Linked DNA regions of Homo sapiens. The protein of the gene in region 1 purifies or fractionates together with the protein of each later gene. This does not show direct contact. Each region holds a gene or a part of one and is shown in the gene's direction. Other genes may lie near its edges.

The links. The genes of interacting proteins can lie anywhere in the genome.
Region 2: the proteins of NCEH1 (region 1) and CLGN purify together in Homo sapiens (co-immunoprecipitation; 2 studies listed by BioGRID and IntAct, with this or other methods). This does not show direct contact.

What each region holds. Positions count from the first base shown.
Region 1 is NC_000003.12:172,645,068-172,648,567, reverse strand, and holds part of NCEH1 (neutral cholesterol ester hydrolase 1), read left to right. Parts: intron 1-453; coding exon 454-682; coding exon of another isoform or gene 683-706; intron 707-2,875; coding exon 2,876-2,945; intron 2,946-3,500.
Region 2 is NC_000004.12:140,407,149-140,410,648, reverse strand, and holds part of CLGN (calmegin precursor), read left to right. Parts: intron 1-22; coding exon 23-96; intron 97-753; coding exon 754-812; intron 813-3,500. UniProt on the Homo sapiens protein: Functions during spermatogenesis as a chaperone for a range of client proteins that are important for sperm adhesion onto the egg zona pellucida and for subsequent penetration of the zona pellucida.

The sequences.
Region 1 (3,500 bases):
TTACAAAGGAATTTAAAGAAATTAAAGTAAATAGAACATTTTCCTCTTTTATTTGCATTGAAATAAAGTATTATTTCTTTACTCCTAGTATGTTATTGGAACTGTGATATACTTATTTAGAAAAAAAAGGTACTGAATCCTGGAATTCAAACCTAATCTTAGGTTTGAGTCCCAGAACTACCACTTATCCAATGAAATGAACAAGCATAGTTATTGTTTAAGCCTTCTCAATAAAATGGGACTGATGATACCTGAGGAGATCTCATGTATGAAAATATTTTGTCCAAAAGCAAAAGGTAAATACAATTGGTTTTTGTATTAAAAGGGCTCAATGAGCCCTCCAGTCCAGTGGCAGCTGCTTGTAGGAATTCAGACACTCAGTTGGTGAGGGCAGCTCTGGTGATGCCAAGTTGACGTGCGCCCTCCCTCTTTATTTCCTCCCTCGCCCTGCAGAGTAACCTGATCCACTACCTGGGACTGAGCCATCACCTGCTGGCACTGAATTTTATCATTGTTTCTTTTGGCAAAAAAAGCGCGTGGTCTTCTGCCCAAGTGAAGGTGACCGACACAGACTTTGATGGTGTGGAAGTCAGAGTGTTTGAAGGCCCTCCGAAGCCCGAAGAGCCACTGAAACGCAGCGTCGTTTATATCCACGGAGGAGGCTGGGCCTTGGCAAGTGCAAGTGCGTCCTGGTCACCTTCAGATGGTTTGTTGTTGTGGTTGGCCTTGGGGGAGATGCGTAACTGAGTTTGGCTTTCTTAGTGGGAAAGAAGGGGACCATTTATCTAGGTTCCCCTGGATGGTCCCAGTTACCCCTGTTGTCCCAGCAAAATTATGACTAGTGCCCCCTTTTCACTCTCAAAAGGGTCCTGGTTTGGGTGATAAATTAAATGGTTATCCTTTGTAAAGGTTTTTTGCTTGTTAGTTTGTTTGTCAATTCAGGTAGACTGTTGTAAAAATATTTCCTATGATCTAAATCACAGACTAACTTATTGTGCAGTGCTGATACAGCTTTCTGCACCAAAACAAGGTGAAGTTTCACCAGGCACGCATATGGGGAATTATCTGTGCTTCTTTTGCCAACTTGTGTTTTGAAGATATATTTCTATGAAATAGACCAGGTATTCCTTAATACACATGTTAACATTTTATCTGCTTATGAAAGCAAAGGTAAAAATATATGCAACCATTCAAAGGAAACAATCTTGCAAAGTTCAAGAATATTTTCTTTAGATTTGGATGATTTTTATGAGTAGAACACATTCAAAATGGCAGGCAGCCAAACAGAGCCGCCCAGAAGAGAACCTCCCAAGGCGGAATTCGGGGTCTTGTCTCTGCTAATAAATGATCATGGAGCTACTTCCTCATCTTCAGTCCAGAGCTTTTGGCATCCCCTTAGTTTAAAAGCAATGGCAACTTGTTTTTTTTATTTTATCATTATGTGATTTTTTTTTAAAAGCAACAAAGGTCAAAAGGTTTGACTTTTTCTAGTAATCTTATTTAATTCCATATCCGTTGTTTATTCTTTTATTCAGTGATTTTTTTTCACATTTTCAATAGCTGTTCATGAGTATGTAGGTTTGCCCGAGACCAAGGGGTTTGCTGGGCTGCAGGTCTTTCAGTGCAAAAGCTCAAACAGTTGTGGGCAAGTCTGGACCATTGGTCAGTCTAAGGTGTGCTCGGGTGTAGGGATACAAAAATGAATAAGAAGGAGTTTCTGCCTTAAAAGAGATTGAATCTGTAGCATTGGACGCTTGCCAGGAAAAACATTGTACTGGAGGACAGCAAGTATGGGTGCCAGGAATGGGATGGATTACAAGAGTCAGCCTGGCCTTTTCTGCATAATTTTGACTGATCACTTCTGCCTGAGGAAGAACTTGAGCAGGTGGAGGTAACAGGTGTCTATGTAATTCTTAAGCTTCCGATTCTAAGACTGCCTTGGAAACCCTATAAATAAGGAAATGTTTGGCTCTCAGTTGGCACAATATAGATCTTAATTTACTGAGAGTAACTAAGAATTAAATTCTTACATATTAAATTGGTTCTGTTACTGCAGACCTTTGGAATCCTCTAAGAAATGCTAAGACTTCCTAAAATTCTAGTTTTTTACGTGTTCATTTAAAGAAAATACCATATTCTTCAAATTGATCACTTTACTGAACTGCAGCAAATGAAGTGTTAAAAGAGCAAAATTGTTAAAATTATTATTTTTAGACATAAGATCTCACTCTGTCACCCAGGCCAGAGTACAGTGGCTCTATCACAGCTCATTGTAACCTCAAACTCTTGGGCTCAAGTAATCCCCCTTCCTCAGCCTCCCAAGCAACTGGGACTGCAGGCGTGCACCACTATGCCTGGCTAATTAAAAAAAATTTTTTTATAGAGGCAGCATCTGGCTATGTTGCTCAGGCTGGTCTCAAACTTCTGACCTCAAATGATCTCCTTCCTTAGCCTCCTGAAGTGCTGAGATTACAGGCATGAGCCACCACTCCCAGCCTAAAATTGCATGATTCTAAGGAAGAGACTGCTTATTTGCTGTGATTTTTTTTCCAGAAAGATGTATACATTTGAAGAGCTATAAAATCAGGATTAATTTGGTGCATTTCATATAGTCCGTTATGAAATAAATATTTAGATAGTAATATATTCAAAACTAAACTATGCATTTCCTGTTATATAGTAGTTGCATGTTATTAGAAATCAGATTTAATTTTTCATGTGTACATGTAACTCTATTATTTGTTCACATTTGCTTTTTATTATTTGTTTTTAGTATTAGCTCCAAGCCTAAAAACAATTCACACTTAGCAGAATTTATGAGTGGACAGTATTAAATGACCTGTTTTGTAATGATTGTTCCCTTTGTGTCTTTTAGAAATCAGGTATTATGATGAGCTGTGTACAGCAATGGCTGAGGAATTGAATGCTGTCATTGTTTCCATTGAGTAAGTAATTAATGCTAGTCATAGAAAATTTTTCTTATAAAGGAATTCTAGATAACAGTCTGGTTACTTTGTTTTACAAGTGATAAAGTAAAAAATAAAGGTCTCAAGTTGGCAAAGAGATATGCCCAAAGTCACACTCAGCATAATCAGAAAAATGATTTCTGATGTAACAAAATTTATTGAACTAGCTTTATAACACTTCAAATTACCTTTTCACCGTTAGTTTTGAAAACTGAAAAAAGGATTAACTAAAAACCTAGAGAAGTATGCAATCAGTTACCTGCAACATATAACTTTTTAAATCTAAAAAGTAGTAAGGATTTTAAGAGAATCTCTTCTACAGCTGAGAGTTGAAAAAGTTGCTCTCTTAGAGTCAGGTTCTATGACTTGTGCCTTGGGAACAGAAATACGTGTTCAACAAATTTTAATGGTGTGGTTAGTAGTAATAGTAGTAATATTAATATTTTGGGTTGTCTCTGTCAGTTCTGTATAAGCCACTTTTCTGGGCAACTAAGAAGAATGTGAATAATAATTATAATAATTTTGATGATAATA
Region 2 (3,500 bases), on another chromosome or scaffold:
ACTTGGAAAATCTCTTTTCTAGATTAAATATAAGACACCTCAACCTATAGGAGAAGTATATTTTGCAGAAACTTTTGATAGTGGAAGGTTGGCTGGGTGAGTATTCATTCAAGAGAATGTTTTCTTTGATTTATTAGCTTTTTTGAAGTTATTAGGTTTTGGCCTATGAAAATTATCTCTACTACAGATCTATAAAAAATTTTAAAGTAGTTTAATTGACAATGTAAATCAGTACTTAGTATATTTTTGTAATTGATAGAATGTTTAATTTGAATAGTTATTTATTCAAAGAAAATATACTAATTCCGAATGCAAAGATGAAATTTATAACATTTCTTTATTCTCTAGGACAGATTAACACTCTTAAGTTCAGATGACAAATATGAGTACTGCTCTACTCTAAATAATGGAAAAAACAAAAGTTAATATTAAATGATTATTATGTGTCAGATGTCCTTAAAAAAAGTAGATAATTACCATATTTAATCCCCATTTTACAGGTGGAGAAACCGAGGTTTCTTGTACCTTACCTGTGATCATACAGCTAGTAAATTATAGATTCCAAATTCGGTTTAACTCTAGCCCTTCAGGATTATGTGTAGGCATCCTTATTTAGCATCTAAGTATGAATTTATTGTTGAATGAAAAGTGACTGTATTGGGTGATCTTTTATTGTGTTTCTGTATGCCTTATATCTATAAATTGCTGCTTTTATTGTCAATGACATATATGTATGTTCAACTTTATTTACAGATGGGTCTTATCAAAAGCAAAGAAAGATGACATGGATGAGGAAATTTCAATATACGATGGTAAAATATTTATTTAAGTATTAGATATAACCAGTATGGCCTGGAGTTCACTAAACTTTGAGATTAGATTTTTGTTAAATTGTGTTGGCTGGAGTCCCCCACCCTGCCTCACAATAAAATGTTCAGTCTTTTATCTTGTCCCTCTTCAATATTTCTGAAAAACCCTTCGCTATTTCTGAAAATCTCACTCTTAAGCCAGTTAATCTAGTTTTCTAACTGAACAGTTGAATTTTCACTCTACTGCTGTTAGTCTTTTGCATTTCCTGAAGCAGTATTTCCCAGGCTACTGCTGTCTCTATGGTTTCATCTCAAGCATAGACACACCTTGATCTATAAATTAAATAAATTATAATTTATGGTAAGATTCTCCTAGCAAGTAAAAAGCAGAAGATAGCTAATGAGAGCTACAAGATATGTGGCTGCTTCTGGAATCCTCATCTCCAGGTCTATATCCATTATCATAGGGTGTCTAATAGGATTATCTTCAACCTTAGCTCTAGAAAGAAATGTCCTATAGGCAGGGGTCATATTGTCTTCCCTAATAGGACTACCCTAGAGTATGACCAAATATTTTCTTCTTTGTGGTCTAAAAACCAGCCTCCTTGATTGTTATATGCTGAAGCAAGATCAGCCTCTTCTCACAGTGACTGATAGTGGTAATTTCTTCTTTCTCAGAGGACCTCATACTCATAAACATGTGGCCCTGCACTCAGACTCTGATAAGCAGTTACATCACAACAGCAAAACAGATAGCATGTTGGATGTCAGCTGTCTGCTTCCTTTTCATAGTTTCTGTTTAGTGTAAGATAAAGATCATACCTGCATGTCTTCCTTTGCATGGTGTTCGCCATCCCAGCAAATCCCCTGTGTATATATATACACATATATACATATATACACAAATATATATACATATACACATATATGTGTGTATATATATGTGTGTGTGTGTATATATATATATATATATATATATGCTTATCAACTCCAAAAAGGACACCACCATATGCACAGAAAAAGCAGTAGTGGGATTTCTGGATCAAATAGTAGATCTACTTTCAGTTTTTTAATAAACCTCCATGCTGTTTTCCATAGAGGCTGTATTAATTTACATTGCACCAGCAGTGTATAAATGTTCCCTTTTTACCACATCCATGCCAATTGTTTTTTGACTTTTTAATAATGGCCATTCTTACAGGGGTAACGTAGTATCTCATTGTGGTTTTAATTTGCATTTCCTTGATGATTAGTGATGTTGAGCATTTTCTAAACATGTTCGTTGGCCATTTCTATATCTTCTTTTGAGAAATGTCTATTTATGTCATTTGCCTACTTTCTGATGGGATTAATTTTTTTCTTGCTGATTTGTTTGAGTCTCATGATTCTGGATACTAGTCCTTTGTCAGATTCATAGGTTATTAATATTTTCTCCCACACTGTGGGTTATCTGTTTACTCTGATGATTATTTCTTTCGCTGTGCAGAAGCTTTTTAGTTTAATTAGGTCCCATTTATTTATTTTTGTTTTTGTTGCATTTGCTTTTGGGTTCTTGGTCATGAATTCTTTGCCTAAGCCAATGTCTAGAAGAGTTTTTCTGGTGTTATCTTCTAGAATTTTCATGGTTTCAGATCTTAGGTTTAAGTCTTTAATCCATCTTGAGTTGATTTTTGTATAAGGTGACAAGTAAGGATCCAGTTTCATTCTTCTATATGTGGCTTGCCAGTTTTCTCAGTACCATTTATTAAATAGGGTGTCCTTTCCCTAATTTATATTTTTGTATGCTTGGTCAAAGATCAGTTAGTTGTAAGTATTTTGCTTTATTTCTGGTTCTTTATTCTGTTCCAGTGGTCTATGTGTCTACCTGAGACCATTACCATGCTGTTTTGATAGTATGGCCCTGTATAATTTGAAGTCAGGTAATGTGATGTCTCCAGATTTGTTCTTTTTGCTTAGGATTACTTTGGCTATTCAGGCTCTTTTTTGGTTCCATATGAACTTTTGGATTTTTTTTCCTAATTCTGTGAAAAATGTTTTTGGTATTTTCACAATAATCACACTGAATCTGTAGATGGCTTTGGGCGCTATGATCATTTTCATGATATTGATTCTTCCAATCCATGAGCATGGGATGTGTTTCCATTTGTTTGTGTCATCTATGATTTTTTTCAGCAGTGTTTTGTAGTCCTCCTTGTATAGATAGATCTTTCACCTCTGTTAAGAATATTCCTAGGGATTTTTTTTTTTTTTTTTGCAGCCATTGTAAAAGTCATTGAGTTCTTGATTTGATTTTCAGTTTGGTCGTTGTTGCTATGTAGCAGTACTACTGATTTGTGTACATTGATTTTGTAAGCTGAGACTTTTATTGAATTGATTTTTCAAGTCTAGTAGTCTATTGGATGAGTCTTTTGGGTTTTCTAGGTATGCAATCATATCATTAGCAAACAGTGATAGCTTGACTTCCTCGTTTCCAATTTGTATGTCCTTTATTTCTTTCTCTTGCCAGATTGCGCTGGCTAGGACTTCCAGATAAAGTTGTTACTTCTTAAAATAAGACCTTTATAGGGGGCGAGAGGCAAACTACAAGTTAGTGATAATACAATTCACCATCAATGTGAGAGAAAGAAAACCAAGTACATTAATCTTTTTCAAAAAAATATAATATGACCAAATCAGGGGGAGAAAGAAAAG